Homo sapiens: one gene and its partners. The protein of the gene in region 2 interacts with the protein of the main gene of each other region in a pairwise test. Each region holds a gene or a part of one and is shown on either strand. Other genes may lie near its edges. The genes, in order: SH3GL2, TYMS and UPF2.

What was found.
Region 1: the proteins of TYMS (region 2) and SH3GL2 interact in a two-hybrid assay, tested with the Homo sapiens proteins (one large-scale study listed by BioGRID and IntAct).
Region 3: the proteins of TYMS (region 2) and UPF2 interact in a two-hybrid assay, tested with the Homo sapiens proteins (one large-scale study listed by BioGRID).

The regions. Positions count from the first base shown.
Region 1 is NC_000009.12:17,585,521-17,589,251, forward strand, and holds part of SH3GL2 (endophilin-A1), read left to right. Parts: intron 1-3,731. UniProt on the Homo sapiens protein: Implicated in synaptic vesicle endocytosis. May recruit other proteins to membranes with high curvature. Required for BDNF-dependent dendrite outgrowth.
Region 2 is NC_000018.10:667,521-670,964, forward strand, and holds part of TYMS (thymidylate synthase), read left to right. Parts: exon of another isoform or gene 1-159; coding exon of another isoform or gene 160-232; intron 233-1,551; coding exon 1,552-1,653; intron 1,654-2,797; exon of another isoform or gene 2,798-3,171; coding exon 3,172-3,347; exon of another isoform or gene 3,348-3,444. UniProt on the Homo sapiens protein: Catalyzes the reductive methylation of 2'-deoxyuridine 5'-monophosphate (dUMP) to thymidine 5'-monophosphate (dTMP), using the cosubstrate, 5,10- methylenetetrahydrofolate (CH2H4folate) as a 1-carbon donor and reductant and contributes to the de novo mitochondrial thymidylate biosynthesis pathway.
Region 3 is NC_000010.11:11,920,810-11,924,309, reverse strand, and holds part of UPF2 (regulator of nonsense transcripts 2), read left to right. Parts: intron 1-3,002; coding exon 3,003-3,012; 3' UTR 3,013-3,500. UniProt on the Homo sapiens protein: Involved in nonsense-mediated decay (NMD) of mRNAs containing premature stop codons by associating with the nuclear exon junction complex (EJC).

The DNA of each region.
Region 1 (3,731 bases), on a different chromosome or scaffold from region 2:
TGTCTTAGAATGACAATCACTGTACAGGAGGATAGGAGGGGGGACACGTGGGGTGGAGGTGACAGCTCTGAGAGCAGGATCAGCTAAGCAGGTGGGAAACAGGTGGGAGCAGAGAGAGCAAGGACTGTGGGCAAGTGCCTTTACTAGTGATCTCAGTGCAGTTCACAGCTCAGTGCAGTTCACAGTGCGTTGCATTGGTGCATTGGTAGGTCGTGGTCAGAAGAAGACAGAGAGGTGAACTTGTGGTAGGGGCCAACCTTATCAAACTTGTGCACCTGGTTACCTGGGTGGGGTGTTCACAGTTAGCGTATGTGGGAATGAATGTTGAGGCAGCAAGAGGCAGCAGGAGACAACATGTGAAGTTTTGAAACTTTGTAGTACAACCCTTCTCAGTGTTTTTGGTTTAGAATTTATTGTTTCCATAATCACTTAAGGAGCCTAAAAGCTTAAGAATGATGTACATGGTATCCGATGGATAATAAAGACTAAAGAGAGCTATAACTATACTTATTAAAATGCCATGATTGTGAGACCCTGCCAAGTCTTTTGCATTCTACCAACAAAATATTTTCATGCTATACTAAATCATTAGCTGATGACAAATGCTTCAGGAAATAATTTCACTATTTATAAAGGTTTTACATTTAGTACAACTTCTAAATGCCAAATATGATGTTGTAGTTGCTCTACCCTAATCTCCCTCCGCCATCCCCTGGGTCAAATTGTATATAGTAGTAATGAATATGGAGAAGCTGTCTGTAATACTCGTGAAGAACCCACAGCTCCATGGAGGTTTACTTGGATACTTAGGACACTGAAGGACCTCTAGGCAGTGTTTTCTGCCTTTTTTTGAATTATGATATATATAAAAAATAGAAATATCTTTTTTATAATTCAAACTAACCTTTCCCCATAGATACTAATGGAAGCAGTTTTATAATGCTGAGAAACATCTCAATATCAAGCTATGTATTAGTCTGTTCTCATGTTGCTAATAAAGGCATACCCGAGACTGGGTAATTTATAAAGGAAAGAGGTGTAATTGACTCACAGTTCTGCATGGCTAGGGAGGGCTCAGGAAACTTACAGTCATGGCAGAAGGGGGATCAAAAATGTCCTTCACATGACGGCAGCAAGGAGAAGTACAGAGCAAAGTGGGGTAAAAGCCCCTTATAAAACCGTCAGCTCTCGTGAGAATTCACTCACTATCACGAGAACAGTGTGGCGGTAACCACCCCTATGATTCAATTACCTCCCACCAGGTCCCTCCCATGACACATGGGGATTGTGGGAACTACAGTTTAAGATGAGATTTGGGTGGGGACACAGCCAAACCGTATCACAGAATAATGCTTGAAAGAAACATAAAGCAGATAGCCTATGCTTTTAAACGTACAGGAAATCGGCTGGGTGCGGTGGCTCATGCCTGCAATCCCAGCACTTTGGGAGGTCGAGGCAGGCAGATCACTTGAGGAGTTTGAGACCAGCTTGGCCAACATGGCAAAACCTCGTCTCTACTAAAAATGGGAAAATTAGCCAGGCTTGGTGATGCACAGCTGTATTTCTGGCTACTCAGGAGGCTGAGGCAGGAGAATTGCTTGCACCTGGGAGGCGGAGGCTACAGTGAGCCAAGATCACACCGTTGCACTCCAGCCTGGGCGACAGAGCGAGACTGTCTCAAAAACAAAACAAAACAAAACAAAAAGTACAGGAAATAATGTCCACAGTGAATGACTCCAGTGAGGAAAGGAGAGAAGGGGAGTCAGGACAGTTATTGTCCATAACAGTGATGGCATCCTGCAGGGGGCATTGTGAAATCCCCTGCCTGCCAGTAGAGGAAGTTCCTTGGTTTTACAATCTGGCTCTGCAATCTGGGAAGAACTCTTGTTCTTTCTTATATATATTTGGCCAGGTCTAAGGAGGGTTAGAGGAAATCTGCCCTCTTTGGGAACGGCATAACTTTTCAGTCAACTTCCTGTTTATTTAAATTTGGGGATTGTTTTACAGTCATAGGGTTTTCACTATCCATGGTAGATTTGAGTAATGAAATTTCTTCATAAACTTAGTAGGCTTCTGGCCAAGTGCGGTAGCTCATGCCTGTAATCCCCGCACTTTGGGAGGCCGAGGTGGGCGGGTCACCTGAGGCCAGGGGTTCAAGACCAGCCTGGACAACATGGTGAAGCCGCTTCTCTACTAAAACTACAAAAATTAGCCAGGCATGGTGGCCTACGCCTGTAGTCCCAGCTACTCGGGAGGCTGAAGCTTGAACCTGGGAGAGTTGCTTGAACCTGGGAGGCAGAGGTTGCAGTGAGCCAGATTGCACCACTGCACTCCAGCCTGAGCAGTAGAGCAAGTCACTGTCTCAAAAAAACAAAAACCAAAAAAAAAAAACCAGAAAAACTTCAACTTAATAGGCTTCTGATGTGTTTTCTTGTGAGTTTCATTTGCCAATTTCTATGATGGAAATTCTTTTTTAGACCTAATTTTCATCCAGTAGACTTGGTTGTGTTACTCTGAACTTAACAAGAGGGCCTGATACTTTGGCTTAACCAAGAAGTCTTAATGGTACTTTGTTGCTCAAAGTCTTTTTCATTTATATTTCCCGTTATTTGCTTCAGGGACTCAGGATGACCCTGGATCGGTTCTGCCATCTGTAACATATGGTTTTCAAGGTTGCCAAAGGGAAAGAATATGTTTGAACAAGCATGGGAGATGTTCATAAGCCAGGCCTGGAAGAGGAATATGGTAGACAGAATGCTACGATTGTTGGTGACTCTTGCTCTTGTGTACTCTCCTCCCCTTTGAGTGTGGGTGCAATGTTCAATTTGAAAAGATGTTATTCCTGAGACTTTTAACTTTGTAAGACAAAAGGGAGATTATATGATTGGACTTAATCTAATCTCATGAGCCCTTTAAAAGCAGGATATTTTCTCTGGCTGGTAGTGGAAGGAAAAATCAGAGAGATTGGAAGTATGAGCAGGACTGGACATGCTGTTGTTGGTTTAAAGAGGGAGGGGCCATGTGAGTAGTAATGCAGGCAGCCTCTAGGAGCAGAAATCAGCTCTTTGGTGACCATCAGCAGGGAAAATAGGGATCTTAGACCCACAGCCTTGAAGAATCTGAGAGGAAGGGAATTCTTCCCCCAAGCTTCCAGATAAGAGCCCAGTCTAGCCAACGCCTTCATTTTGGCCTTGTGAGGCCCTCAACAGGGAGCTCACTTAAGCAGGCCCAGACTTCTAATTTATAGAATTGTAAGATAATAAATGGGTATTGTTTTAAGCTGCTAAATTTGTGGTAATTTGTTATACAACAGCTGAAAATGAAGAGAAGGAATAGTTCCTTCTGTTTATGTTTGGTTGGCTGGAACTTGTAACATGGCCCCTCTGTGGTACACCTAAGAGAAATGGAAGAAGGCAAGTGTAGCCTAGCTATGTGCCCAGGATGTAAAAGTGGGTTTTTGGTTAAAAAGCTAGCAGTTTTGCTATTACTGGTGCCTATAATTAATTAATTGTGTGTCTGTATATTAATCTATTTGTGAGCTTGTAAGTGTATGTATATGTGCATATGTCCATATGTACATACACAACATACATATGCACATATGAATTTTAAGTCTAGTTTGCTGAATAAGTCTTTTCTTAATACATAAGGCTCAGTATGTTCCATGTGCCTTTTGAAACTGTCGTCCAGGCTGGGGTATAATGGGGCGATCACAGCTCACTACAGCCTCA
Region 2 (3,444 bases):
GGTGATGGAGATGGTGATGGTGATGGTGATGGAGATGGTGATGGTGATGGAGATGGTGATGGTGATGGTGATGGTGATGGTGATGGTGATGGAGATGGGTGATGGTGATGGTTGCCTAACATCAGGAACGTGCTTAATGCTTCTGAATTGCACACAAAAATGGCAAGTTTAATATTATGTGTACTTTATCACAATGAAAAAAGCTGCTGCGTGGGCCAAGTTACTTGTGCAGGTAAGTGTTCTGCAGGTCGTTGCCTGCACCTCAGTTGTAGGGTGTCCGTAGGATGTGAGGCCAGTCCCCGGGCTTAATGATGCTTTAAATCCTGCCTAGTATTCAATTATTTCTTGTCGCTTAAAAGGCCTAATAAAATTATGGTTTTAGTTTACAGTGGTATGAATGCTTAGCTGTTGGATTTTAGTAGGAAAGTTTGTCCCTTTTTGTTTTTAATTTTGTTTTACAGATTCACAGGAATTTTTTTTTTTTTTTTTTTAATGCACAGAAAGTTTCCCTGGACACACTACCCAGTTTCCCCCAGTGATAATATCTTGGGTAACATCCTGTATACATTCACATTGGTGCATTCCTCAGAGTTGTCAGATTTTGCTAGTTTTACGTGCACTTGTGTATGTGTGTATTTGCAATTTTAGCACGTGTAGACTCTTGTAACCACTACAATCAAGTTACAGAACTACACTACCAAGGTTCATCTTTTTAAAATCTTTGATGTTACCTTTTTCGGAACAGTGACCATGAGAGGACTTTCCTCCCAAAATTTTGAGAACTACTGAACCAGAATATAGTCTGACACTAATAGGTAGAAATTTAACCAAAGGAGATTATGAAGCTCTGCACTTCAGTTAACAAATCACTTCTCAGCTTCCAGTTCCATCTCAGAAGGAAGGAAAGGGATTAAAATCCAGAGACCAGAAATGGGAGCAAAGTACAAGGTGGTGTAATCATTACAGAGGTTTCCTGATGTTTCCAAGTCAGTCGTGTGTTGAGCTGCTAAACTCTAAAGTAATTTTAGGTGGAAGTGTTGGAAACATGCTGCTGAGGTGATAGAAAGGAATCCATGGTCCTCTGTTAGTTGGAAAGTATATGGAATACTATATTCTACATAAGATACAACACTCTCTGTGAGACAAGGATAAAGTAGATTTTGTCAGTGAAATTGTGACAAGAATCGCTGATGGGTTTAGAGCCTAAGTTTGCGAGGAGCACTGGAAGAAATTAAGATTGTTGAGATTGGAAAGGGTTAGCTATGGGGGGAACAGGAGGAGGTGACTCCATGACAGACCAAATATTCAAAGGACTGTGTAGAAGAGGAAAAAGACTTTGTTAGGGCTCCAGAGGACAGAGCCAGGAGTCAGACAGGGCCTTGAACTCAACCCACCGAGATCTGCAAACTTTGCAGGATGCACCAGATGTCTTGTAGCCATGGGTCAAGGGGGGACCCTGGGTAAGAGACTGTAATAGATGACCTCTAAGGCCATCTCATGACATGTGTGATTAATGTATGTACCTGTCCTCTCTTTTTGACAATTCTACAGATTATTCAGGACAGGGAGTTGACCAACTGCAAAGAGTGATTGACACCATCAAAACCAACCCTGACGACAGAAGAATCATCATGTGCGCTTGGAATCCAAGAGGTTGAAAGAACCCCGTCGTCTTCATTTATACTAACCATACTCTTAGAGGGAAGCAATCTGGTTTTGTGCAGAGGCACCTGAGGGAGGCAGGACCCTGGGAACTTCCCCCAGCCACATGGTTGATTGTGTGACGTTGGGCAAGTCACATTTTGCTGCACTTTCACCTTCAGATCATGAGGTTGGGCCCAGAGGATTTTTTTTTTTTTTTTTTTTTTTTGAGACAGAGTTTTGCTCTGTTGCCCAGGCTGGAATGCAACGGCGTGATCTTGGCTCACTGTAACCTCTGCCTCCTGGGTTCGAGTGATTCTCCTGCCTCAGCCTCCCAAGTAGCTGGGATTACAGGCATGTGCCACCATGCCCGGCTAATTTTGTATTTTTAGTAGAGACGGGGTTTCACCATGTTGGTCAGGCTGGTCTTGAACTCCTGACCTCAGATGATCTGCCTGCCTCAGCCTCCCAACCAGATGATCTTAATTTGTGTATTTATACTCATTCTTACACCAAAAAGGGTTTTAAATTGCCTAGAAACTACATGTAAGATGTTAACATTTTAAATGGAAGCAGATGAAGTTCCAGCTCGCTGCCACCTCACTAACATTTTTAACAATTATATTGTAAAATTCAACTCTACCAGGGTGTAGAGCCAGGTGTGGTGGCTCACACCTGTAATTCCAACAACTCCAGAGGCCAAGGCGAGAGGATCATTTGAACCCAGGAATTTGAGGCTGTAGTGAGTCATGATCACGCCATTGCACTCCAGCCTGGGCAACAGAGTGAGACCCTGAATATTTAAAAACAACAACAACAACAAAACTCTATCAGGATATCATAAGTACTTAGAGTGAAATACTTGCATCTGTAATAGAGACTTATTTTTTTTTTTTTTTTGAGACACAGTCTCACCCTGTTGCCCAGGCTGGAGTGCAGTGGTGTGATCTCCGCTCACGGCAACCTCCATCTCCCAGGTTCAAGTGAGTTCCCATTCCTCAGCCCCAGAGCTGGGACCACAGGCGCGCGAATTTTTGTATTTTTAGCAGAGACGGGGTTTCACTATGTTGGCCAGGCTAGTCTCGAACTCAAGTTGGCCTCAAGTGATCTGCCCACCCTGGCGTCCCAGTGTTGGGATTTCAGGCATGAGCCACTGTGCCTGGCCATGTAATAGAGACTTTTAATATAGGAGGGTGTACCAGAAGCACCAGTTTCCTGTGGCAAACAGAATTATTCCTGCTGTATTTGTAATCTGGTGCCACGAGGTAGCCCAGATCCCTTCAGCTCTGATGGAAGAGCATTGCTTCAGCCGTAAATGGACACCTGCAGAAACCTTGCACCGATGGATAGTCTCCCTCAGCTCCGTGCCATCGCTGCAGAGGCTGTTATGGACATCACTGCAGCCCAGTGGCTCTCTCTCCTGGTCTCCACCATATGAGTTGGCTTCTGTTTCTCTCCTGTTTTACTTTGCCTTTAGCTGTGGTCTTTCAAACCACCATCCCTCCTTATCTTCCTCTGCTGGTTCCTCAGATCTTCCTCTGATGGCGCTGCCTCCATGCCATGCCCTCTGCCAGTTCTATGTGGTGAACAGTGAGCTGTCCTGCCAGCTGTACCAGAGATCGGGAGACATGGGCCTCGGTGTGCCTTTCAACATCGCCAGCTACGCCCTGCTCACGTACATGATTGCGCACATCACGGGCCTGAAGGTGGGCTGTCTCGGGAAGGGTGACTTGCCAGCCTACCACACTGAGCTCTTCAGTTCTTTAATATGGGAAAACAAATTGCAGAGTTTAGTCTCTGATT
Region 3 (3,500 bases), on a different chromosome or scaffold from region 2:
CACCACGCCCGGCATAAACTATTTTTCTCCTGTAGCTTTTGATGGACTCCCAGATTTTAATTTGTATTTGTATATTTTCTAACCAGGAGATCCTTGAAATAAGGACATAAATTAAAATTTCAGCCCTTTAACAAATAAGAGGCATTTGCTTACAATGAGTTGAAACGGCAGCAGTGCTGTAAGTAAAACTATTATGTAGGGTTTTCTGTATTGCAGAACAAGGTTGTTTTTCTAATACACTAGTATTGAAAATCTGTGAAACTTAACATTTTTGGCAAGTGTTAATACTTACATGGCTTAGATGGTACTAATTCATATGGGTTATTTCAATGCTTCTCAAACTTTAAAATACGTATTAACTCTCTAGACTCTTACTAAAAAGCAAGTTCTGATTAGTTTCTTTTATTATTATTTTTTAATTATTGTGGAAAGCTTCACGAATTTGTGTGTCATTCTTTTTTGTTGTTTTTTGAGATGGAGTCTTGTTCTGTTGCCCAGGCTGGAGTGCAGTGCCGGGATCTCGGCTCACTGCAACCTCTGCCTCCCGAGTTCAAGCAATTCTTGTGCCTCAGCCTCCCAAGTAGCTGTGATTACAGGCATGTGCCACCACGCCCAGCTAATTTTTTTTTTTTTTTTTTTGAGATGGGGTCTCGCTATATCGGAGTGCAGTGGCGTGATCTCTGCTCACTGCAACCTCCGCCTCCCGGGTTCAAGCAATTCTCTGCCTCAGCCTCCCGAGTAGCTGGGATTACAGGCACCTGCCACCACACCTGGCTAATTTTTGTATTTCTAGTAGAGACGGGGTTTCACCATCTTGGCCAGGCTGGTCTTGAACTCCTGACCTCATGATCCACCCTCCTCGGCCTCCCAAAGTGCTGGGATTACAGGCATGAGCCACCGCGCCCAGCCAAATTTTTGTATTTTTAGTAGAGATGAGGTCTCACCATGTTGGCCAGGCTGGTCTCCAAAACTCCTGACCTCAAGTGATCTGCCTGCGTTAGCCTCCCAAAGTGCTGAGGGTACAGGCGTGAGCCACTGCACCCCACCTGCATGTCATCCTTGCACAGGGCCATGCTAGTCTTCTCTGTATCACTACAATTTTTAGTATATGTGCTGCTGAAGTGAGCACAACAAGCTCTGGTTACTTTTAAACAAGATCTCCAGTGATGTCAAAACTGCTGGTGTGTGGCCTACACTTAGCGGCATAGGAGTATACTATCTGACTTTTAAACCCATCTTTTTAAAAATGATTTTGTTGTTGTTTTATTTTGTTTTTGAGACAGGTTCTTGCTCTGTCACCCAGGCTGGAGTACAGTGGCGTGATCACAGGTCACCGCAGCCTCGACCTCCTGGGCTCAAGCAGTCCTGCCTCAGCCTCTCAGTATCTGGGACTATAGGCACACACCACTACAAATGGCTAATTTTTTTTATTTTTAGTGGAGTCGAGGTCTCACTATGTTGCCCAGGCTGATATTGAACTCTTGTAAACCTATCTTAAGTAGAGTCTGCATTTTTTCATCAGATTTTTTTTTTATATATCTTTATGTAAGGTTAAATTAGTGATAGTTTTGTTATACAATAGAGTCCATTGTAGAATTGCATTTAATCCAAAGTGTATATTGTATTAATAAACAGTTTTTGAGCTGATAGATTTTTGAGTCACTCAGAATGATTGTTTGCTTATAAACCAGTCAAATGACACCTTACACTATAACTAGTGATATAACTATACCTTACTTAGCAAAGATTTTGAACATTTTTTTCCTGTCATTTACTGCATTTATTTAAAGTATTCTAGGTTAGATAGCTGCCTTTTCTTGACTTCAGGAGAGATGCTTGAATCTTCTCTTTCATTCCCTCAGGGAATACTTGTGTTCTTTCCATCAGTTCATTTCTGGAAGAGTTACGGATCTTATCCAGCTGAGGATATACTTTTCCATATTTGCATCTTAACGCTTTGAAAGTTTCTTGCTAAGGTAGCTTGCTCTGTAAGAAACAAACTGTTCATCTGCTTGGGCTGCCATGACAAAATATTACAGCCCTAGTAGCTTAAACGACAGATGTCTGTTGTCTCGCAGCACTGGAGGCCGCCGGCAGGAAACCTGAGGTCAGGGAGTCAGCGGGGCTGGTTCCTTCTGAGGCCTGGAGGAAGACTGCTCCAGGCCTGCCTTCTACTGCTGGGGGTGCCGGCAGTCTTTGGCTTCCATACCTTGTCATACCTCACCCTGGTCTCCGCCTTTGTCTTCACGTGGCCTTTTCCCCCTGTGTGTGTCTGTGTGCAAATTTCCCTTTTTATAGAGATGCAGTCATATGGGATTAGGGCTCCACCCTGCTCCAGTATGGCCTTATCTGAAGTAATTACGTCTACAGCAACCTTGTTTCCAAATACGGTCACATTCTGAGGTCCTGCAGTTCAGTGTTAACATGTGAATTTTGGGGATACACAACTGAACCATAACACAAACTGTGAATTCTTAGCACCTTAAGAATAAGTTGTAGAAGAGAACAGAGCCACTCCTCCAGCCATTGCTCCAATGGCTCTGGTTAAGTTGTAGCTCAGTAGAGAGCATGAATGCTCTCAAAAAAGCACTACAGTTGTCCTCGGTATCCACAGGGGGTTGCTTCCTGGATCCCCTCAGACACCAAAATGCACAGACATTCAAGTCCCTGGTAAAAAATGGTGTAGCATTTATGTATAACATATGCACATCCTCCCGTGTACTTTACATCATCTCTACATTACTTGTAATACCTAATAAAGTGTAGATGCTATGGAGATAGTTGATATACTGTATTGTTTTTAATATTTATGTTATTTTTTATTGTTTGGGTTTTTTTCCCCCGAATATTTTTGGTCCATGGATGTGGAACCCGCAGATGCCAGGGCCACCTGTAACTTGGGGGAGTGACTTGGTGGTGGTGGGTAGCGTTGCAGACGCCATCTTGCTGGACTTTGTCCTGTGGCAGTAAGCTCTCTGATGTGACCCTGTTTGTTCCTTTAGGAGACGTTGATCCAGCAGCACGTGTCATTTCATTAGGTCCTGTATCTGATGTTGTGGTTAGTGGAGTCCTCCAGCAATTGAATGAGAGCAGTGGACACATCTCAGCAGGTCGGTCTAGAGAGTTGCGAATCTAAACCTGGGACAGGCTGGGGCCAGGAGGCAGAAACACCAGCCTCTGCCAACACCGGAACAAGCCGACGCTTCCAGACAAGGCGGAAAAGGCCTTTTGTAATGGAAATCTCGCGAGGGTTAATCTTCTCTTGAGAATGGCAGTCAAGAAATGAGATGGTTCACTTGACTACTGAGCAGTTACACCAAGGAGAGCGTGAAGGAGATGATTGAGCCAGAGAAGAAACGGGTTGTGATGGTAATGGTGTGGGGGAAATGAACTTGAGCTTTAAACTTGATTTGAGTTTCAGTGTCTCTGAATTGAACATCCCACGTTGGAAGAAGATACATTTGGGGGCTCCAGGACTACAGTAGAAAAGTATAGAGCAA